Regions from separate parts of the Homo sapiens genome. Here all the other regions are reported to be linked to region 3. The links are microRNA targets in miRTarBase. Many come from high-throughput screens and were not tested one by one. Region 3 holds a microRNA gene; each other region holds the end of a gene's coding sequence.
Evidence for each region. Region 3 holds the annotated microRNA hsa-miR-4276 (CUCAGUGACUCAUGUGC, at 4,264-4,280, opposite strand). A microRNA usually pairs through its seed, bases 2 to 8, with sites in the 3' UTR of a target mRNA and lowers its output. Matches are read on the target gene's strand: a 7mer-m8 pairs with bases 2 to 8, a 7mer-A1 pairs with bases 2 to 7 and ends in A, and an 8mer does both.

Region 1 (8,042 bases), not on the chromosome of region 3:
CCATGGGCCTTTCTGCCTGGCCTAGTATGGCTCTCCTTCGAACTCACCTAGACCCTTGCATCAAAGGACTCGGGGACTCTGCTGCAGTCATCCTAGCACGGTCGAGAGGAGTAGGAAGGTGCCCAGCGGCTCAGCCTTTAAGGAGGTCTATTGGTCACCATTGCTTCTGCCTTCTTGAGAACCATCACCCTCGGAGGATCCGGTAGTGTATCCCAGTCAAGTGTCAAATGCGTTGTTCCCTGGAGAGGAAGGCTTATTTCCAGAAAGTACTCTGACGTTTTGTAATTTGTGATTTCTATCACTGGCTCAGTGGCCTACCCACTGCTCAGCTCATGTGGCATGACCAGGCTGGGGCGTCGGGTCATCTTGTTCTCTGGGTGTGTGGCAACACTGGTTTATGGCGTAATTTCCTTCCTGAGAAGAAATTCAGTAATTTCTAATATTCAGGGCTTTAGGTAGAGGCCTGAAAATCACTCTCCATGCCTCTTTCAGTATTTTATATATAGTTGTCTCTTGGTATCCATGGGGTTTGGTTCCAGAATCCCCTGCAGATACCAAAATTTGCGAATGTTCAAGTCCTTTATATATAGTGGCATAGTATTTGCATATAACCTATGCATATCAGCCAATCATAGATGGTGATTTAAATCATCTCTTGATTACTTCTAACACCTAATACTATGTAAATGCTTTGTAAGTAGTTGTTACCTGGCATTTTTTTATTTGTTTTATTTTTGTTGTTGTTTCATTAATTTTATTTTATTTTTGGAATATTTTCAGTCCATTGTTGGTTGAATCCACAGATGCAGAAGCCTTAGACACAGAGGGCCGACCACACCTATGTATGCTGTTCTTAAAGTAGCAACATATTTGTTCTGAACATAGAAGAAATTAGTCGTCTATTAGACTTTAAGGGAGTAAATATGGTCCAAGTTGATTTTTAAATTTAGCAAATAGTCATAGACATATCAGTGTCTTACAGAAAATATTTATTGGAATGCTCACTCTCTCATTTGGGATACTGCTTTGCCTTGCTGTGTCTTAAGAATGTCATCAGAGCATCACACACTTGAAAAACGTTTTTAAAAGGATATGATGATAATTAAGACCTTCTCCCCAACCCCTGCCCATTATCCAAGATCAATGTTTTTTTCCTTTATCCTGATTTTAAAATCAAGTACACTTTATTGAGGCATACTTTACATGAAGCAAAATGTACCCTTTCTAAATATGATAAGTTTGATGAGTTTTCAACAGATGTATACAGCTGTTACCATGACTGTGTCTTTACCCAGGTTCTTGCATTGCTCAATCCAGATACAGAATGTCTCCATCACCCTGACAAGTTCCTTTGTGCCGCACCCTCTAGCCAATCATCTGTTTTGAGGAGAGTTTTAAAACAAAGGTTTTTGTTCTTTTTCACTGATGACCATAACCTACCACAGACAGGGTCTCTCTCTCTCTCTCTCTCTCTTTTTCCCTGTTCTTGCGCCAGCTGCCTGACAATTTGTGGGATTAAAGCTCTAAGCTGCTTACTGGCTCTTCTGACTAGGGAGAGGGAGCAAGCCTCATTATTTTTCTATTCTTTTCAGTGACTGCTCACTCCTCTTCCTCCAAAATCCCTATCCATCCATCCATCCATCCATCCATCCATCCATCCATCCATCCATCCAACTTTCCATCTACCCATCTATCCTTCCATCTATCCAATCCACTTGCGTGTTGAACGTCTACTATGAGCCATTGGCTACCAGGAATCCCACTTCCACCCAAATTATGTTTCAACAGGGAAGACAAACAATTTAACAATTACGATAAAAAAGAAAATATGCCATACAATGGAAAAGAAGGGGGCATGATGGGAGACCCAGCGGGAGTAGCTGGCAACGATTCTTAGGGGGAAGAGACATTCCTAATAGACACCTGCAGGAGAAATATTAAAGAGTCAATCATTTCAGTAGCGCTTATTGTGACCAATAATGCAAGAAGTTTCTGGGTTCCCAGGCTGATGGGTTTGAAAGTCACTGCATCATGAATGTGCCCAGGACCCACACGTTGTTTTGTAAGAGAGGGGTTCAGTAAAATGTGAAATGACCGACATTCAACAGGCAGAACTGTGCAGAATGCACGCTTTGCCACTGATTGAAAGTGTTTCTTCAGTAGGTTTTGATAGAATATATTACTAATCTGGTAAGAAACAGCTTAGGGCCACTCAAGAAAAGAAAAGCAGCCCCTAGAAACATGTTCTGTGGCTGGGCACAGAGGTAGCTGCTGGAATTTGAACAGGGGTGAGCAGGACCTCGTGGACCTCATTGTGGGGTTAGCAGGGCTGGGCTGGGACAATGAGATCATTTTCTAGGCAGAGAAAAGACAACATGGTAAGTTAAAAACACTGAAAAGTCTGCGCTGCCAGAGTACAAATGTCAGCCAGGAGGGCCCTGACACTCTTGAAAGAGGGATTTGAGCAGTGGCCACTGCATCTACTTGGCACTCGTTCGCTGTGTAGAAGGGTCACCGAGTCCCTCATCAGAATCCTGAAAGAAGGAGAAACGGTGGGCACAGGCAGCACACCTCAATCACTTGTGAATAATTTCCTTCTGTCTTTCATAAACATAGCTATGATTGAAATGACCTTTCACGAACAGCAGGGAAGGATTGTGGAAGAAAATGAGGTATGTGAGAAGCAAATCCATCTACCTGATTGCCATGTAACTTTCGGTGAGTCACGGAGTGAGAATTTCAGATGTGAATTAAGGATTGCCAAGAGTGGTGATATACTTGAAAAGTTTCCTCCACGTTCTACTCCCTGTTCTACTTTAGAATCAGGAGGCCAGAGAGGCAGGAGGGAAGAGTACTTGTTATTCATAGTGGACCTTCTTCCTGAATAATTTTTAGGGTAATTATGTATGCAGCTTCCACCTGAGTCACTGACCTTTGGGTGAATGTTACTGGATATGTACCTATGATACCCAGGCAAACTTTCTGCGGGTTCTACGGGCACTGTGAAGTGTGACAGACTTTGGCTGCGCGTTCACTTTTGATCATAACACGTCCATAGAGTGCTTTTAATCTCCTGCAACTTAACATATGAGAAAATCGATTTATTTTGTAGTGAGTTCTGCACATTTCACAGAAAATTAAAGCTCTCTGAAAACCCAAATCTTCTGTGGGCAGTAATTCACACACAATATTCTGGAAATGTAAAATCCCAAATGCCTGCTGACTTCAAATCAATGTTTATAGCTTGTGTCTGAATAGCTCCATGAATTGCTCCGCTCCTCTCCTTCTACTGCCCTTCGCTTTGATTTAGCCACTCATTTCCAGGGGCTGATTTTCTTTTTTTGCATGGCCCTAAGCTGTTTCCCATCAGATTAGTAACATATTCTATCAAAGCCTATTGAAGAAACACTTTCAATCAATGGCAAAGTGTGCATCCTGCATGATGCTGCCTGTTGAATGTCGGTTGTTTCACATTTGACTGAACCCCTCTCCTACAAAGCAATGCGTGGGTCCTGGGCACATTCATGATTCAATTACTTTCAGGCCCATCAGCCTGGGAACCAGAAACTTTGTGCATTATTGGTTTTACAATTTCAGCTGAGGCTTCCACAGAACAACTCAGAAGAAATAGGCTGTCCTGAGTGAGCCTTTTCCTTGACTTGTATTTTCTATTCTAAGGTCTATTGGCTTCACTGGCAGTGGGACCACTGACTTTTTCCCTCCTTTATCTAAGGGGACCTGTTGAGAGTCTCTATTTGGAAATATTTCCTGCCTGTCCTTAGTGGGGGTCAATGCCTGAATCTGTCCAATAATCAGATTTGACCAACTTGGTGGAAGTGTGGATTTTCCAGCACGATTAAACCTTGAACATATATGGCTTGAAAATGTGCAAATACTCTTGGAAATGACAGGATCATGGTTCTCAAGACAGAGAAAAAAAAGTAGCATGTGAATTTTCATAGATAAACGCCTAATGCTAATGTTGATCAGGATTAATGTCATTTCCTAGATTTCAGCAAATAAACACTGGGTTACTTAGGCCTTTGTGGGCTTCCCAGGAAGGTCACCACCATTTGAAATGAGACTTTCAGGGGAAAAGCTGCCAGAGATTAAACAGAAGGCTTACAGATGCATCTTCTGAAGATAACTTAGTATCTTCCATGGACATCTTTTCTAATAGAAAAGAAAGCTCTTCAAATGACCAAAACCATTGCTGTTTTGTGGAGGTGCTGGTGAACAGGGGTTTCATCACAGTAGCATCTACCTGTACAAACGAAATACTCGAAGTTCTGATTTCAGTTTTATCCATTTTCTTCTTTTGCAAGTGATGCATTCTTAGTGTGGTGGACTCTCCATGAACCACAGCACAGAATTAGGAGTTTCTAAGCTCAAATTGACAAAGGATGTCTCCTTCTGAATTTAAAATGTTTAAAAAGGTTTAAAAGCCTTTTAAACTGCAGAATTTAGAAGGTTCACAGATTTATTCTAGAAATAAAATGACAACTTTTCTGTAAGGAGCATACTGTGCCCATTTATTATAGAATGCAGTTAAAAAAAATATTTTGAGGTTAGCCTCTCCAGTTTAAAAGCACTTAACAAGAAACACTTGGACAGCGATGCAATGGTCTCTCCCAAACCGGCTCCCTCTTACCAAGTACCGTAAACAGGGTTTGAGAACGTTCAATCAATTTCTTGATATGAACAATCAAAGCATTTAATGCAAACATATTTGCTTCTCAAAGAATAAAACCATCTTCCAAATTTCCAAAGCATGCATTGTTACTTGGCATTAAGTATTTCAAAATGACAAACATTGTTACGGTATTGTAAGGCCAAAATATAATACCTATTTACCAGACATACACATTACAACTAGAAAAAAATTACAAATGTTAACCTAGTATAACAATTCCATCAGGAATGAATGGGGAAAGGCACTGCATCCCTCTCATATCGCCACAGATCTACTATCCACTTGACATGCTTTGAATTCAAGTCCTGTTAGACATGGGAACAGCTTTTCCTACAACATATGATTCACAGGTAGGTTAATACATCTTAGTCTCCCACTGCCATACTTTTCACCCAAGTGTACAACAGGTATGAATATATGCTATCAGCTTTATTTACAAGTGTATCTTGATGTCTTCGTGGGGTAAAAGAACCAACTATCTCAACCAACAGTTTCCAAAAAAGTTTTTGGCTATGATTCATGTATAGAAACCACCACATAAAAGAAACAACAGAAACTGAGGTCCGATCCCAAACACCTAAACTAAAATTTCTCACCCACTAAAAGTTGGCAGTGAAACTGCTATTCTCTGAATTGTATAAGCTAAATTCTACAGAGGAATTTCAGATCAACTTCTTTTGCAAAAGCACAAGTTACACGTTGCACGGTTGGGGATGCTGAGTGAATGCATTCCAGGAAGAGTTCCGCAAGCAAGTGCTGTTGCAAAGAGTCGAGAATCCGAGAATCTGGGAAAGGTGATACGTTTTCCAAACGCTTTCCTGGCTTCCCAAAAGATGTAAAACAACAACGGTGTAACTTTATATACGAACAAAGGTTAGTCTTGTAAATCAGTAATATACATGCACAAACATGAGAACATGAGGGAAGAAAGGAAACGCTACAATTTCCACATTGCATTGCTGCTGTTTTCACAACCTCTCTGCACTAGGCGGCTTCCTGTGGTACCTCTTCCTACCAGTAGAGAGTGGCCCCTGCAGGCCACTTAGAAACAGGAAGCTCTCTCCTGAGCTCACTGATCAACCTGCCCTTGGCACAGACAGAACCTACCAGAAAAGAACAAGTACAAAACACTATCATTATCTGTTTTCTCAAGACAGTCCCAAATGTCCTTGTGCGATCACCACAAACTCAGTGATTGGCCCAAGTCATTCCCGGGTGCCATGAACAGTAACTGGTGTGCAGCATTAGAACAAGGGGACACGGCCTTGATTCTCTTCTGAGCAACATGAACTGGGATTTCTGCCACCCCGATCTCGGCTGCCACCTCCGAAGAAGTCGTGACCAGCCACCTCCACAGTAAAAGATTCCTCCCGTGAGTATGATTTGGAATGCGTCCTCGTCGCGTGCCAGTTCAGCTGAGGTGGATCGGCGTGTACTCCGGCCTCCTGGTCTGGATAATTTTTGGCTTAGGTCTCCTCATTCTTTCCATTTCCTCTTCTTCCTCCTTCTCTTGATCACTCTCACATACATGGACCACCACGCTGGGAGTGGTGTCAGTCGCTGCGTGCAATTCATACTTTTCCCCTAAGGAGGGAAAATAATCGCAGGGTCACTCAGACAAGTCCTTGGGAGTCAAAAGGCAAACATAAAAGAGCATTCAGGGCTCTGCTGGGCCAGCTGCTCGTGACCATTCGATTGGGCTGAGAGACACAGCCAGACATATTTTGGGTTTGTATTTCTTTGCTAGCTCATTCAGAAAAAGAGAGATTTCCATTGTGCATGACTCTGTTTTTAGTCAAACATTCTGGGAGTCCAGGCACATGAGAAGTATAGAAGGAATGCATTTTTCTAGTTATACTTCACATGTCCACCAGATATCTAAACTACCCAGAGAACTCCCTTTCTGTCAGCATTTCCTCAAGTGTGAATGTGAGAAACTTCGGTTCAGGAAAAAGATGGATGAAGAAACGTATTTGGAAACAGAACCCTGGGCCTCCCTCATGCAGCTCCTATTTGAGGGTCGCAGTGCACGCCCAGGAAGGGCGCCACAGGAGGCCCTGCAGCAGACGCAGGGGTGGCTGCACGGAGCCAGGTGCTCTGGAAACGTTTTTGACCTGGGCATCTTTTCCTTAGAACAACTTCTAATCCCCGGGACCAGGAGTGTCCTGCTGTTCTATGTCAGCCTGAGTTCTACCAGGTTGGCCAAGTTCAGGCCACTCTGGTCCAGCAAGGGTGGGGAGAGCTTTCTGCAACTGAAAAACCCGGCAATGTAGAATGAAGGGACTGGGGCCTCCCGCTGGGGTGCCGCTCTGGCCACGGGAAGAGTGTGCATCTCTGGTGCTCATGAAGGCAGCTCTGAGCCTGGCTCCTTAGTACCCAGGGCTCATGGGCACTTTATTCTGCTTCCCTGTGCACCTCAGTTCCCTCCTCAGTAAAGGAGACGGTAAAGGTATTGACTTCATGGAGCTAACAGCATGAGTGAGTGCCCGAGGCAATGAGAACCCGGCTCACCACATGCTTGTCCAGCCCATGTCACCTAGAAAGATGTTTAAGAATGGAGACTGCATCGTTATTGGTGCCCTGCTGGGCAGGGATCTGAAATAGGGGCAGGAGGTTTGCTTCAACCTGCTCCACCCACAGGGTGTGGCCTCATGGTCAGTTTTCTTCCAGGGCTTTGTGCTTGGGATTTCTTTTCTTTTCTTTTTTCTTTTTCTTTCTTTCTTTCTTTTTTTTTTTTTTTTTTTTGAGACAGAGTCTTGCCTGTTGCCCAGGCTGGAATGCAGTGACAAGATCTCGGCTCAGTGCAACCTCCGCCTCCCAGGTTCAAGTGATTCTCCTGCCTCAGCCTCCCAAGTAGCTGGGACTACAGGCGCATGCCATCATACTCAGCTAATTTTTGTATTTTTAGTAGAGACGAGGTTTCACCATGTTGGCCAGGATGGTCTTGATCTCCTGACCTCGTGATCCGCCTGCCTCAGCCTTCCAAAGTGCTGGGATTACAGGCATGAGCCACCGCGCCCGGCCTGTGCTTGGGATTTCTTTGCAGTTCGGGTAAGCGAGGAGGCACCGCACCAACCACTGTGTGATTTCCGCCCGACAAGAGCGGCCCAGGAGAGCTTCCTACCTCCAGCCACACTGGTTACTCCTCTAAACCTGGAAGGTACTTTTACTGATAAGGAAGGTGGTGATCTTTTCTCTATCACATGTGGGACTGGAATGTTATTATAACTGCACTGAAAAAGGCAAAGGAGCTCAGCTCTCTGAGAGAGAGAATTCAGGCATGGGAGGTCAGATGGATTGCTGAAAATGCTGGTTAAGAGCCTCTTACAAATCTACCTCTTTGCAAGTC
Region 2 (8,109 bases), not on the chromosome of region 3:
TCTTCTCCCACTCAAGAGCCACTCAAGTATGTGAAGACAATAAGCAGGCCCACATATGTTTCTTTTCCTTCAAGCTAAGCGTACCAGTTCACTTCTCTTTGAGCATGCCCTCCTCCAGGAAGCCTTCTCCATATTCCTCCCGCAGCCCCCTCTATGTGATCCCAGAGCCCTCTGTGCATAATCTTACCAGTGCATTTACCTCAGTGCTTTTAGAATTCTGTTTAGAGTGTCAGTATTTTTCCTCCTGGGCTGTGTATATCTTTATGTCCTTGGTGGCTTCTCAGAGACTGGCATGTCTATCTGCTTAATTGATGTCTGCTGAATGAATCGAATGAGTGAGTTCTAATAATAAACTGTAAAACCACCTCTTCGAGAATGGGCAGGAGCCTCTGCAGCTAAGCAGAGCTGGGGATTCCAGATGCAGATCTGAAAGCTGCAAGACCATTTCTGGCCTCACAGTCCCAGAGCTGAGATCCTTGCTTTGAAATTCTCTGTATAAACTTTACACAAGCTTATGAAAGCCATTAGCTTAATCCAAGTCACTAGCATTGGAATCTGAGCCCAGGTTGTTGGCAGGAAAATATAAACACAAACCTTAGCTCTGTGTTCAGGTTCTTCTTCCTCCCTCAGTCATGACTCTGATGTGCGGATTGTTTTGCTACAGGACCTGGAAAACTGATTTGCCCAAAGGAATGTGTACCCTGGTGTCCCTCTCCGTGGAGCATGAGGAAGCCCAGCTCCTGGGTGGTGTGCGAGCAGTGGTGATGGACTCGCAGTACTTGATAGAACCGTGTGGCTCTGGCAAGTCAAGACTGACTCACATCTGCAGGATAGACCTGAAGTAAGTGCTGACTCCCTTAATGGCAGGCTCAGATCTTGGGAGTCTCAGCTTGTACAGCACATCCAGCAGGGATGTCACCCTGATTTCTTATTTCACTGTATTTGTTTCCTCATTGCCATTAGTGTGCTTTCATAGGTGGATATGTATGCCTCCCCTCTGTCTTTCCCCCTTTCCTGAAATTCTGACATTTCTCCTGCAACTGTTTGTCTTTCTTTATTTTCTGTTTTATGCCTACTTATATTTCTGTCTTTCTCCCATGAAACACACACCAGAAACAGAGCCTGACACATAGTAGGTACTCAGTAAATCAGAGTTTCCCTCTCTTGTGTTTCTTTTTGAGACAAGGTCTCACTCTGTCACCCAGGCTGGAGTGCAGTGGCACCATCAGGGCTCACTGCAACCTCCACCTCCTGGGCTCAGGTGATCCTCCCTCCTCAGCCTCCCCAGTAGCTGGGACTACAGCTGCCCACCACCACACTCAGCTAATTTTTGTATGTTTTTGTAGAGACAGGGCCTCGCCATGTTGGCCAGGCTGGTCTCAATCTCCCAACCTCAGGTGATCCGCCCACCTCAGCCTCCCAAAGTGCTGGGACTACAGACATGAGCCACCGTGCTCGACCATGTATTTCTTTTATGCCTGTCCCCTTTTGCTGCTCCCTCTGGTAGTTCTTTGAGAAGTAAGTAACTTACATCCAACCCCTTCAAGGCATTCATGATGCTAAACCCAGTTCTTGGTCTGGGTAGACAAAACGGAGTTTTCACAGTAAATTCTGGATTTCATCTGAATCTTTTCATTTTACCCCAAGATGTTGGTATCATTTTAAAGCACCTGATGAGTACTCAAATGACAACATGAATACTTAGCAGCCAGGACGTTTTCAAGGCCCCTGATGGCAGAATGACGTCCTGAGCCCCTCAAGGCAGCAGCCCGAGCTGTCTGCAGGTTCACTGGTCATCGGGGCCCAAGGGCAGCCCTGTCCACCAAAACTAATTGCTGTGATTTGGAAACAAACTTTCCCACTTCCTTTCTGATTTCTTTCCCCACAGAGGTCACTCCCCAGAATGGTACAGCAAAGGCTTTGGACATCTGTGTGCAGCAGAAGTTGCCAGGATTAGAAACTCTTTCCAGCCCCTCATTGCTGAGGGCCCAGAAACTAAAATCTGAGTTTTGCCCAGTGTGACATCAAACTCAGGGAAGAGGAAGCTAAAGTGACGAGTGTGGCAGAGAGTGTGCATGTGAGAAAGCGAGAGAAAGAGGAACTGAAGGACGCGGTTAATGCCTAAAAATGGAAACGTTAAGAAGTTGGAATGTTGGAGATGCAAGAATTTCCAAGAACTTTCTTAGCCTTCCTGGAGATGGCTACATCCCTACTAATATAATTTTAAAATGAGAACTTTATATATATTACTTAAAATTAAATGGACTATTCCTTGTGCATTGCCTAATTTGCTATTTAAAGGCTTCTAAGAAGCGTATACCTAACTGTAAATAAATGTATGTATAGCATATGTACATATGTGTGTATATCTCCATCTTTACTGTATATATGTAAAATACCAATTTTATATAGAATTGTGTGTTTTGAAAATGACGGTGTCTGACTCAGTGAGTCCCTTCCTCACACAGTTCTTTCCAAGTGGCTCTGGGCCCCATCTCTCCACTGTCCTGTAAGCTGTGCAGAACCTGCTGCTAACACCAAGGTGTGAACATGCCCTGATGCCTAACCAAAGATGAGTTAACCAAAGGAAAATAACATTAAAGGAGACTTATGTGTTAACGCTTTGTTTCTGCTATTCAAAAACTGAGAGTGGAGATCTGGGATAAAGCAAGGAAATAATAATTACTCCTCCTTAAAGCAAATGGGGGGGTGAGAAGTCATTACCAAATTTAAAGCTAGATGAGGAGTTGCCACTGGGCCCAGTAAGATGGAATTTCAGTGAGATATGGACCACCGGAGTCAGCGAGAGTGACTGAAACAGAAGCGATACCTCTCGCTCCCATGCCCATCACTACAGACCCCAAGTCAAGATGAATATCATAGCCTTTACTTCTTCACAGCCAAAGGGAGCCCCTGTGTTGTCTCAAGTTTTTATAAATACATTTCATAATGTTATTAAATGTCATTCTATTTGACCAGTGGCCTATTTGGTCACAGTTAATTGGTGTTTTCTTATTGCACTGAATTCAACTCCAGACACCATACAAAGGGAGATGATGGCCATTCCGTTCAAATCCTAGATCGTTACAGCTTCAGGGAATTCATATTTTGTTATGTGTAGGATACTCTTAAAATGTAATTCATTAAACTTTTACAATCTGAAAGACAGGGTTTTTAACTAACATGAGACCAAAACTATGTTCTTTGATTAGTTTTAGATAGTATAATCGGGTTTATTAATTCTTCTGTGTTTCTTCACTAGCCAGTCCAAGCTACCTATGCATTTGACCCAACCTTATTTATTATTGTACAGATGAAGCGAATTGACTCCCTTTAGCCAACTGCTAATGGATCGAATGTGCTTTTTATTGTAATTCAACAGCTATAGAGAGAAAGATAACTTATTGTGTGTTTGATTTCAGGGAGAGAGATTTTCTTTGGTCATCCATAATAGAGATTGATAAGATTTAGCAACTGGTGTTGGAGAAAAAAAGAAAAGCAAATGAGTGTTTTCAGGTTTTTTTGCATTATATGCATTTATGTAATGTTTCTGTTATCAGCAATGTGCAATTATTTTATTGAGAGGAATAAAAAAGCTTTCTATGAGTTTGGTATGGTGCGAGGAAAATCTTACAGTTTGAATTATGACCTAGAAATTTTTCATTCCCATATCTACCTAAGAAGGAAGCAGTAAATCCATAATTTACCTTTTGGGCAATGCTTTGTGAGCAAAACAAAGTCACTTCTGCCATAACATCTTGAATTTAACCATATATGCCAGATTACTTTATATGCATCAACAAGATCACCAGTGAAGTTTAATCTAGCTAAACACTGGTCCTGCTCCTGAGATGGGATCCTATGTGTTTGGAAAACGTGATAGGCACACGAGGATGAGTGGCTTTGTATCGCCCAGAGAGGTGCTTGTCCAGATTTCACATGCACATGAATTGCCTGGGGATCTTGTGAAACTGCAGACTCTGCTCCAAGTAATCTGGGCTGGGCCTGAGATTCTGCATTTCTAAGGAGTCTCAGGGATGCCTATGCTGCTGGCCTAAAACCACACTCAGAAACGAGGACCTAGAAGATCCCTAAAACAGAATAAGAACAAATGTGATTGTATTTCTGATTCTCCCTCTCTTCGAATTATCTGACTTTTTTGTTTTTGTGCACATAGTAATCATATCACCGCTGCATAACAACACAGTGCATCTTTTTAAAACAAGGAAAAGGGAAAAAAAGGAGAAAAAACGATGCATCAAGCTTGTTTGTCAAATACCACAGTATTTTATTCATTGTTATCTTGCCAATGGAAATAAAGTATGATATTGCATTTAAATATTATATTTATACCTCATGTATATTTTTACCTCAATTGTTGATATCAATCATCAATTGTAAATAAATAATTGCCAAGGCAAATAAATTTATATATATTAAATATTTCCTATTTTCTATAAAATAGATGTTGATTTTCATGCTTCATCTTTAAATGGAAAATTTGCTTCATGAGGAAGATTTCTCCCAAGATAGCCTGCCATGACTTTGACTCCTTGGTACCATCTGTAGTCAATACTGTCTTCAAATACAAAGAAGTTGTTGTCAACAGACATTCACTATCAGGCTGGGTGCCTTAACCTGGATCTAAGGGATTAAAGTGATGGGTGGGGATTTTTTTTTCTTAAATTTCATTGTCCTTAAATCTAGAAGTTATAATTCATAATTTTTTTCATATTCATAATATTTTTATCAAAGGTTTAGTAAACTCTTTAGCTACATTTTATTTTTGTTAAGTGGACAAGAAATCAAGATATGATGAAATGACTTACAGCCGCACTACTAGACCATGAAAAGTAGCCACAAATGACTCTAAATCTCTTCCCTTCTACCCTTGAAATCTGAGCATCTCTTCTAAATATCAGCCCAGAGAGCCCTTAAGAAAGCCGGGGCTCTCAAACATTCTCAGGCACAGGCTTCCAAAGCCACAGAAGCCCAGAAGACTGTATGCCCCTACAAAAGTTGTCCCAACTCTGCTCTCTTATCTCATGCACACCTTCCCCTCTTACTTGCAAGTTTTGCTTTCATAGTAGGCAAAGGGGGAATTCAATGGCGCTTTTTCTCTTCTACATGAAGGAAAAGAATGTGATGGTCATTCTAGCAGCCGCAGGCTACAGATGTCCTGAGAGTATGGATCATATGAATTCAAAGGTGATTCTTGCTAATTACTCTGATCTCATCACCATATATGTATCAAAACATGCAGTGACTATGTACCCCACAAATATGTACAATTATTATTTGTCAACTAAAAGAACTTTGAAAAGGAAAGAAAAGTTTTTTACATTATTCCAAACACTCTTCATGAAATTCTTAGACATAAAATTGTTCCACCTGTGTCTTTTGATATTTGGTTACAGAAAAACTGGACATATGGTTCCTTCTCAGGAAGATAAATGTAAAGGTTTAAAACAGACCCCAACCAAATGGAGTGTCACATTCTGATACGAACGCAAAGTCAATGTGTGCTGACTGCACAAGCAGTGAATAAACACCTGACCTTGTGACACTGGAATGTTGCAAAGTCATGAAGTTTAAACAACTGATGATGTACAATTTTTGACATTCCATAGGCAGACTATATCCCTTGTAGTTTTTCTTAAAGACAGTGTTTACTTTCATTTTAATAATCCCACTCTTCAGCCTCCTAGATGTCACCTAGTTTATATCCTTCTGGTGCACAGCTGAGGCTCAAAATTCCCAGCAATATTGTATCTCTGCAGAAAACTTGCTTGCATAAGACTTTTATTCACTCAGCACACATTTATTCAACAGTGAATAAGAGTGGGACACAAGTAGGCAGAGGCGTTAATACAAAGAAGACATAATGTGGGGGCAGAAACTGTGATATACAGTCAATTTTCATTGTTTGTGGTAGTTCCTTTCTGTAAAGTTGTTGCAAACACTGAATTAGTGAATACTGAACCATTGCTCCTAGCAGAAATACAGGATTAGGTTCCTGTGAGCCTCAGGTCACAATATTTTTGTCAACCCACCACTACATAACCTTGTTTTATTGTGTTTCTGTTTAAGACACCTTATTTAATATATAGTTCTTATAAGTTAGTTATCTGCAGTATTTCTTTATAATAAAACCCTAGCAGAGAAGGATTTAACATTTCCCTGATGCTGGGTAACATAACTGTAAATTTCTTGGGCTTTCAGCCTCTCAACAGTACTCTTTTTACTACACTTTAAAAATCAGTTGTCATTTTATGAGTCCACAAATTTAGCTGTTTTTCTGTCTTTTCCATAGTTTCTTCATGCACTATAAATATCACTTCAGCACTTTCCAGAACAGCCTCATGTACATATTGGTGAACTTCCTTTTCTGGATGTACTATATTGTTGATTGATTAACAATGAACTCACACCAATAGCCCTATAACTCAAGCATGAACGAAGCTCATCTAACATACATATTTTCTCCATGAGGCATACCCCCAGCCTTCTTGTACTTAGGAACATTAGACAGCACTTTAGTGCAACATCTGGGGGTCATTTGGAAAGTGAAATTACCACCCAAAAGCACAAAAATTTGAAAAAAATGGCAATTAATAGACTGTAAAAAGGGCACATTTATAGTATGTGAGCCGAAACAAGAAGGAAGCGAGCACACTGACCTCAGCTGGGAATGTGCATTCACATCAGTGACTCCCATTTGTTGACACTCTGAAAATGCCCAAAAATGACCATAAAATCACTGCATGTATTGATCTGAGGGTTACAAATAAGTGTTAGTGAGTAGATGAATTCACAAATGTAGAATCCACAAATAATGAGAAGGGTCTATACATACAACACCCAGTGACAGATTACTGTGAATTCTACAAGAGCCCAGGGGAGTCAAAGGACAGGACGTCTCACCTGAGCTGGAAGAGCTTGGCCTTTATCTGTTAAGCAAACTAGAGCCAAGAGGCAGAGAAATGAACTCGCACTAGTTTTGCTGAAAGAGATTTAAAATGGACTTGGAATCCATTAAAACAGACTTGGAGTATTAACAGTAAAACAGACTTGGACTTAAGACAGACCTGGAGCATTACTAGGCACAGGAGCAGGGTTGTAAAGTTACACCCGTCTTTGCCAGTGTTCTTCACCCGTTTCCACATTAGATGTATTAGAGGTGTCTCACCACCTGCCATTCCTGAGCTGAAACTAATCCATGATAACTTCCCTTTCTTTTCATTTTATAACTCACTCCTTTCTCCTATTTAATGTAGAATATTTCAGAAAACTTGGCATTCATATGATTAACCTCAGAGAAGATGCTTTTAAAACCAAAATAACACCTTCGATGCTACACATGACCCGGAGAGAACCAGATCAGTCCAGGTGTTACATGATCCTAAGATGCCAAGAGCTGATAAGATGAGATTACTGGTGAGATCCCCAAGAACAAACCCCAAATCAGCAGGAAAGTTTGGGTTGCCAGGCTCATGCCTCCCTCTCTTGTTATCATGCCCATTGTTTGTCACAGGAGGTAGGCTTATCCCAGTGATGAGTGAGTGCTAAGCCCAAACCCCTCCTCACTGCCAGAGGAAGTCTTTAATCGGCAGAAGCTAAGCTTGAGTTGTCAGTTTGCCTCTGCCCACAACTCCAGCATGGCCAAGACATGGAACTAAAATCCTTCCCATAGGCCAGACTAGTCTGTCCTTTCCTGGCTAGCTGGCTAGCTTGGGCCCCTGAGGGTGCAAAGGAGATGCTTTGGGTTGGTAACCTGAATGACTAGTGGTTTTGTTGAGGATGGACTGGCATGATGAAGGGCAGAGTGATCTGTGAATCCAATTAAAAGACTGTTGTAACAGTCTAGGTGAAAAATGCTTGTGGGCAAAGAAGTGGATAGCTTTTAAAACATATTTCAGAGCTATAATAGAACTAATAAGATCTATATACTAGCTTGTTTTGAAATGGTGGGGGAAAGGAATTATCTCAAAATGACTCTGGATCTTCTAGCTTGGAAAAACTTTGTGGTAAATTATTTAACTGATATAGAGACAAAGAAGAGGAGAAGCAGATTCGTGGGGGGCAGCAGAGCAGGGAGAGAGCCAGGTT
Region 3 (8,109 bases):
ATTCACATGAGTACAAATGTCTTTGATGAATGACAAGATCAAAACTATGCCTACAAACTGAAACTTAAGTAATACTGTAGTAGATTCTTACAATGTTATGTTGCATCACGATCCTTTCAAAATATAAGTTGGACTTACACTAGAAGCAGAGCTTAGTCACCCCTGACACAGTTTCCAGTTGCCCACTTTCTCCTAATTCTTTAGTGTGGTTGATCCAGATATCTACCTTGCACAACGACCTCCTAGGGAACACCTTCCTGTAGGACAGCTATATACCACCTACTTGAGTTGCTCTCTGACCCTGCCTGGACTGTTCATACATATATGGCGCAATGACCATCTCTCAGTCACAGTGTAGACTACATGCAGCTCGTGCCTGCTTCCTCTAAACCCACAATTCAAAAACTCTATCCCATGTTCTATGGGAAATCTAGTACCCTTATCAACATTTCTGAGAATTCCTTGGGGTTCATATCTTCATGGTTACTCTGGCTCTGCCTGCCTGCCTCCACTAGACTACTGATGTCATTGGCATCTGATCCCCTATAACTATTCTCCTGCCCTCTGCTCTGTGACAACCAGGACATGAAAAGCAACCTTATTCCTCTGAATAACCTATAAACAGCTCACCCATAATATTTGTTCATGTGTTACATTTACCTTATGATTTGAAATGATACATAAATGTATTTACATGGCCTTTGAAATTTTAAAATTTAATATTATACTTTCTCACTGTTTACATTTATTTGACCTGCCTTCAATAATCTCTTACTGTTCATTTTCCTCCATGGATATTTGCTCTGCTATGTTACTCGGCCATGTCTGTTTCTTTCTCCTCTCTTCTTTCTTACTCTTTTTACTACTTGTTTTTTTTTGAGTCGGAGTCTCACTCTGTCCCCCAGGCTGGAGTGCAGTGGCACAATCTTGGCTCACCGCAAACTCTGCCTCCCAGGTTCAAGCGATTCTCCTGTCTCAGCCTCCCGAGTAGCTGGGATTACAGGCATATGCCACCATGCCCCAGTATTTTTATATTTTTAGTAGAGACGGGGTTTTACCACGTTGCCCAGCCTGGTCCCAAACTCATGACCTCAAGTGATCCACCTGCCTCAGGCTCCCAAAGTGCTGGGATCACAGGCGTCAGCCACGGCGCCTGGCTACGACTCTTTTTCTAATATTTGTTCATCACTTTCACAAAGAATATAGCTCTTCTTCATTTTTATTTTCTTATAACCCATGCTGTTAAGTTTTCACATTATACTGAAATATAGTTTCTCACGTTAGTTTACAAACAAGACGATTCCTCCTCGTTAAAGGAACTGTTAAGCCAGATGGTGAAAGTCTTTGCATCCAAGAGTCCTGAGCAGCTGAGGTATATGAATAACAGCTGCCTGAACCCAAATCTCCTCAAACAACCTCTAAGCAACAAGAATAAAACCACACAAAATTCTCACCTTTGGCAAAATTAGAAGACAGAAAAATATTACAAGTGAAAATTACCCATAGGTATAAAAATAAGCACCAAATTCCAGCATAGCTAACTTTCGAAGCTCTTCTGAAGTCATTCCCACAAAGAAAAGGGGTTCTGAAAAAATGCACAAGAAAGATAAGGGACAATTGAGTTAAAGCCAACCCCAGGAAGAGATAGCTCAAAGAGTCCTGATAATAATCCTGGTGATGGATTATTAATCATTGAGTTCTCTAAGAATCAATTAATCCATCCAAATCTAAATAAATGAACAAAAACTAAATTAGTACTGGGGGAATCTTATCCCTTTAAGTGGAATGTCAGCTAATAAATGTAGAAGGGATGGTAGACTTAGAAAATCACCATTTTGGAACTATTACAATAAAAATTGATGTAAGCAAAAATTATCAATGAGTACTTAAATGAGTAGGTCAAAGTTTGGGGAATAAAGAAGATTTAGGTATCTTCAAAGTATCTCTCCACAAATTAATTATAAATTACTAAGGGGAAAATAAAAAATTTGCAGTGGAAAAACCTAGCAGAACCATCTTAGCCAATCAATCGTAGCTAACATCACCAATCATGGGACAGACCAGCATCATGTTGCCTGCTGATGTGATGTGCTGAGAAGAGTACAGTCTCATGTCTGTTTCCCTATCTGACATGCATGACCTGGTTCTAAACAGAGGAAATATCAGACAGACCCAAACTGAGTGACATTCCACAAAATAACAGGTACTCTCCAAGCTGCCAAGGTTATAAGGGAAAAGACTGAGGATTTAATCTAGATTAAAAACACTCCAGGGACATGATGATTAAGCACAATTCTTACCACTGAGTTAAATTTTAGACCAGGAAAAAAAACACAGGACATTGTTGGGATAATGGACTAAATTTGAATATTGGCTCTGGAAGAGGTATTCCTATTATATAAATGGTATATATATTTTTTTACTCTGGTAATTTTACTAGTTATTCAAGAGAATGTGTTTTTCTTAGGAAACACACACTGTTCGAAAGGTTAAAAAATGTTTATTAAGAGAGTAAATGATAAAGCAACCAGAGCAAAAATGTTAATAATTTGTGAATCTAGGTAAAGAATAAAATGAGGATCATTTGTTCTATTCGGATAATCTCTCTGTAAAACTTGAAATTATGGTAAAATAAAACGTTTAAAAAATTCTTGTTCTACTTTATTAAAAATAGAAAATTCTGATATTTTCCTTTTAAAAAAATAATCTCTGAAGTTAGATAACTGGAAACAAAAATTTACAAAGCTTCCCCACAGATCCTTATGAAATAAGTTTATGGTAGAATTAAACATATCCAGGTAACTCAATCTTTTGCTTTTAAGCCAAATTAATTGAGCCAAAAACAATACAGAGCTCTTAAAACATTTTGTTGATTTTTGATAAATTAAGTTGTCCCAGTATTGCCAAAATGTTTACAACAATAATACAACAAAACTGGCCAGGCACAGGGACTGACACCTGTAATCCCAGAACTTTGGGAGGCCAAGGTGGGAGGATCACTTGAGCCCAGGAGTTCAAGACCAGCCTGGACAACACAGTGAGACCCTGCTGTGATTGCACCACTGCATTCCAGCCTAAGCAACAGAGTGAAACCCTGTCTCCAAAAAAAAAAAAAAGAAAATAAAAGAAAAGAAAAAAAATCATAAAACTAACACTCTTCAGTCATTATATGATTTTCATTATTGAAGTTTTATATTTGCTAAAATACCTGTTTTTATTGATCCATCTAGTATTAATAGGTGTAACTGCAACATGTCCTTTTGTTTATGAGCTTAAAAATATAGCAGAAACTACTATAAATTGAGGATTTACTTATGCTAGGTATGGTGTAAGGAAAATTTTAAAAATAGCATTCTGTTTTTTGATCTTAAAAAATCCTATAGGTATGATTAGTACTTTATCTATTTATAAATAAGGAACTGAAGATAAAGAAGGTAAAGAACTTAGACCTAACTTCACACAGTTTGTAGTTTGTAACTGGCAGAGGTGAGGTTCTAAACCTAGTCAACAAGGCTAGAAAGCTAGTAGGTTTCCTAGCACCCTATGTAGTACATATGCTTGCTAGTACTATTAGTAATTCCAATGATTTTTACTTTGGGATTTGGCAAAATCTCTCAGGATAAATAATTCAAAATCATCAATTGTTAAGTAATTTTCCTAGATGAATTCTTGGAATCAAGATGATAGTCTGCTTAACATACGATTCCATTATCTTATCATGTCGGACTACAGCCTGGCAAAGGTACACTGCTCTGTTGAAAAATAATTTTTAAATATACTGTTATTAATCTGGAAGAAACTGCAATGTAGGAGATCTAGAAATAGATAATATTAATTTATTCTGAAAAATTAAAAGGACAGACTTGAGTAACAGACAAAATTTCCAAATAAGCAGATCTTGATTTTGAAGTTCAGGTTTTTATTCTATTTTAATTAAAAATCTAATAACAAAATCAAAAAACCCAGAAACAAAATCCTTGCAAATATTTTTCGTTTTGAACTTCTTTTTTATTACTATTATAATTTTTTGTTGTTGTTTTTACATGCAGAGATAGGGTCTTGCGAGGCTGCCCAGGGTGGTCTCAAGATTCTGGGCTCAAATGATCCTCCCACCCCAGCCTCCCAAAGTACTGGGATTGCAGGCATGAGCCACCACACCCAGCCTGTTTTGAAATTCTTTAAGTTTTCATATGAGCTGTCAAAAAGGTTTCTAGCTACCCATTGCTTTCAGACACAGTAGCTCTATTTACGTGGCCACTGCCAGCACATGAGTCACTGAGTCAGACTGTGACATGCCCACAGCATATCCCATTATTTAACTCATTGACTCAAGGAACACATAAGAAAAAATACACAGTCTACAAATTAATCACTTTAGCAAAATTGGCTTTACACATATTCCAGGATACGTGCATGATTAAGCAAGCTATATTTATGTCAGCAGAGAACTATAAATAGAATATTTATTTAGAGTCATCTTATCTAAGGAGATGTCTAATTTTTGTTGAATTTACACCTCAGATGTCAGACTCAACAGAAAAACAGGCAAGACATGCAGTTTTGTTTTATCTTCCTCCACCAGCCCCAATGCCAAATGTCACATGACACACACACATATACACACACACACACACACACGCAAAAAGGTTGTATTTCTCCGGTAGTCAGAATAGCAATAGCGAATTCAATGGTTCTATGAATGTCTGGATCATGTTTTGGAAAGAAGTAACACTTCTGCAGAAATTTTGTTTCCCTGTTTCTCTTAGATTCAAAGAGCTGGCAAACTGCCAAATCGGAAATTCTGCAAACTGGAAGTGCAAATTGTGTTATTTGTATTGTAATCTTTAACATGTGTCATTTCAATGATTCCCAAATCACACTATGAATCAAAATTAAAACTAAAAATGCAGGTTTTGATAAAATAGGATTCAATGGAAATGTAAAATTACATTTTAGCACAGTGTCCTCCATTGAATATGTTTCCTTCTTTCCCTCTTCCTCTTTTCAGTTTAGTCTCACACAGGTTTTAGATTTTATCTGAGGTTTGAGAGTAAAGTGTTGCATACCTTCCAAAAAGCTTTTGCCTTATTTCCAATTATTGCAATGCAATATTAGATAAGAATCCAAATAAGTGTGATTTATGGGTATTGTTACATTTATCTGGAAAAAAATGCAAACTTAAAAGTGTTTGACAGGGCTCACCACATGAGAAACATCTAGACCCTTCTAGCTTGTCAAAGAAATGGAAGACAATTGAAAGAGTTTGTAGTAAAGCGTGGAAAGGACCAATTTAATGATTTTGTTAAAAGAAATGAAAACAATTATGTCATTATAATATTACTGCTATAATATTATATGTTATATGTTGTTATAACAGAAAAAAGTCAACATCTTTCATCATTCATTTTTGAAATTAACTTCTGTCATACAATTGAACATTTGTTTTTGCTTCCTTTTTTTTCTCCAAATATTTGGGTTTAGTTGAGGTTCTGGAAAAAACTTAGTGTTTTACTTTAGACTAAATAAGCTTAAAATTCACTCAATATCAGCATAAAAACTTTTACCGGAACATTTTGCATAGGACCATATTCCTGTTTTCCATAAATTTAATCTACTAAAATCTAAGAGCCAGATCAGAATTCTTTTTTTGGCAGGCGAGCTTAGAGAAAAATTAAAACAATCAGATTGTTTTCTTGAGTCTCTATAAGCATACCTCCTCTGCACAGTGAATTGAAAATCCTTTTGCTTCCACATCTGATAAATAATACAATTAGTAACTCTAATAATTTTTATTTTTGATGGAATGAAAATGCAGTCATCACTTTGTGAATTTTTTTTTTTTTTTTTTTTGAGACATGGTCTTGCTCTGTCCCCCAGGCTGGAGTGCAGTGGCACGATCTCAGCCCACTGCAACCTCTGCCTCCTGGGTTCAAGCGATTCTCCTGTTTCAGCCTCCTGAGTAGCTGGGGCTACAGGCAGCTCCTGTGCCACGATGCTGGCTAATTTTTGTATTTTTAGTAGAGACAGGGTTTTACCATGTTGGCCAGGCTGGTCTCAAACTCCTGACCTCCAGTGTTCCACCCACCTCAGCCTCCCAAAGTGCTGGGATTACAGGCATGAGCCACCGTGCCCTTCTGCTTTGTGAAATAATTTAAGTGAATTCACATGCATGCAACTTCTCCCATGTGTGAAGCAAGTCAAACACAAGAAACATGATCTCCACATTCTGAACAGTAAATGGAATGTGAATATGGAATGAACAAATGTAATTAAACACTTATTCACTGGAAATGGACATATAATGACAAATATAAAAAGAAAAAATATGTAAGAATAATGTACCTGTACTCAAACTTGTCCTTCAGGCAATATTGTGAGAAATTTCTCCACTAAACCCAATGAGGAAACTGAAGAAAGTAAAATATTAGCATCCAATTTTCTTATGAGTTGATTCAATAAGCATTTACTAAATTCCATACAAAGTTTAAAATAACAATTCCTGCAGTCCTAGAGCTCTCATGGTACAGGAGAGAGAAATGTACACAGAAATTTACTGGTGTGGTGAGTACCACAACTTAGATGCTGACAGAGTACAGTGGGAACACAAAAGTGGAAATATGTAATCATGCACACAGACATCACAGAATATTTCATAAAGAAGGTAAATTTTCAGTTGAGTGACATATAATTACAAGGAACTCCCTAGACGGTTGCAGGGGAAAGTAGTTGCAAAGATATGGAAGGGAAAAAGAACATATCGTATTTTAGAAGATTTCTAAATGTTTTAGCACATGTGGAATATCTGGAGTATAAACAGAGAGGGAATAACTTTGCCCATTAAAATAAGGAATTAAGAAGCCACCATTATTTTTATTGTTTTTTGTTTTTTTGCTGTCAAATTAATTTTTCATCTTTGGAAATTTGAAAATGGGGAAAACATAGAGAAGAAAATTAAACCTACTTCAAATTCTGTCAGCAAAGAATTGTGTGGCTTGACTACATGCTTTATTCCACAGCCGTGCTTCTAACAGCCTTGCAGTGATACTGATCTGAGGCCATGGGCAGCAAATGAGACTGTCCCCCAAGTCAGCTGGGACCAACGATACTTCTCCCAACTGTCACCAAAATGTTCTCCACTTATTTTCCACAATGATGCATTCTTTTCTCAGTCTTGGTGCCTTCTGGATAATTAAATTTTCCCTAGATTTGGATGATATTTCCTTGATTTTATGGTATGTGATTGTTGTTTTCTACTCTTGGCACCAGTAAAGGTAGTTCTCTTTTTTATTATTATTATTTCCTATTGTTTTTCTCCTAGCGTATGACCACTTGTTGAAAAAGGGTTTTGCTCTTAAAGGAAGCTTTGCCAGAAATCCAGAGCACATTTTCTCCTTTAGTTCAGGATTATACATGTAAGTGGCACTGCTGGGTCAAGCAAGAAGTACTATTGAAAGGGTTTGGTATAGAGGCAAGTCGCTTTCTGAAAAAATGTCAATTTTCATGCCTATGATGGCATGTGAGATGCCATTTTCTAGCATGCTTACCGACAATGGGTGTTATCTTTTATTTTTGCAAAGAGTTGAGGGATTTTGAAGAATCATGGTGATAAAATCAGCATTTAACTTTCTTGCTGTCACTCTTCCCGCAGCGTAGAGGATACGCTGAGCATACAGGGTATGGTCTGGTTTGCAGGCCAAAAGATAAGGTAGGTGGTTTGTGAAATAATGTAGATGAGAAAACATAACCAAGGAAGTGGCAGGAAGAAGAAGAGAGATGGAAAAAAATTTGAGAGACAGGAAGGAAATATAAATATAGTAACCAAGAACACGTTGCTAAAGGGGGCAATAAAAATAATTCTGAAAATCGCTGGTCTCTACAAAGCACTGTACACATATTAGTTCATATAATTCTCACAAATTTAGAAGATAGGTGTTATTATTATGATTTTTCAGATTTGTAAAATAGGTTAAAGTAGACATTTAGAAAGTTGTATTATAATGATTGTACTCACTTGTATATAGGAAGCAAGATAATACATATAGCTATGCATTGAGTGTGAACTGCTTGTGAGACATAATCATATAGTTAAGTAGATTCAGGGAAATGTGG

Region 1: miRTarBase lists RCAN1 as a target of hsa-miR-4276. Seed matches in the 3' UTR shown: 7mer-m8 at 5,882-5,888.
Region 2: the mRNA of STARD13 is a reported target of hsa-miR-4276. Seed matches in the 3' UTR shown: 7mer-A1 at 3,019-3,025.

The regions. Positions count from the first base shown.
Region 1 is chr21:34,511,980-34,520,021 of GRCh38, forward strand. RCAN1 (regulator of calcineurin 1) reads right to left here. Exons shown (of 4, transcript NM_004414.7): 4 at 4,463-6,277. The coding sequence ends at 6,105. KCNE1 (potassium voltage-gated channel subfamily E regulatory subunit 1) reads right to left here and starts at 231. Exons shown (of 4, transcript NM_000219.6): 1 at 48-231.
Region 2 is chr13:33,099,490-33,107,598 of GRCh38, reverse strand. STARD13 (StAR related lipid transfer domain containing 13) reads left to right here. Exons shown (of 14, transcript NM_178006.4): 13 at 665-841; 14 at 1,889-4,462. The coding sequence ends at 2,006. Among named protein-coding and RNA genes, the nearest start is that of KL, 87 kb to the right of the region's middle.
Region 3 is chr4:174,419,976-174,428,084 of GRCh38, reverse strand. MIR4276 (microRNA 4276) reads right to left here and starts at 4,290; the gene lies at 4,221-4,290.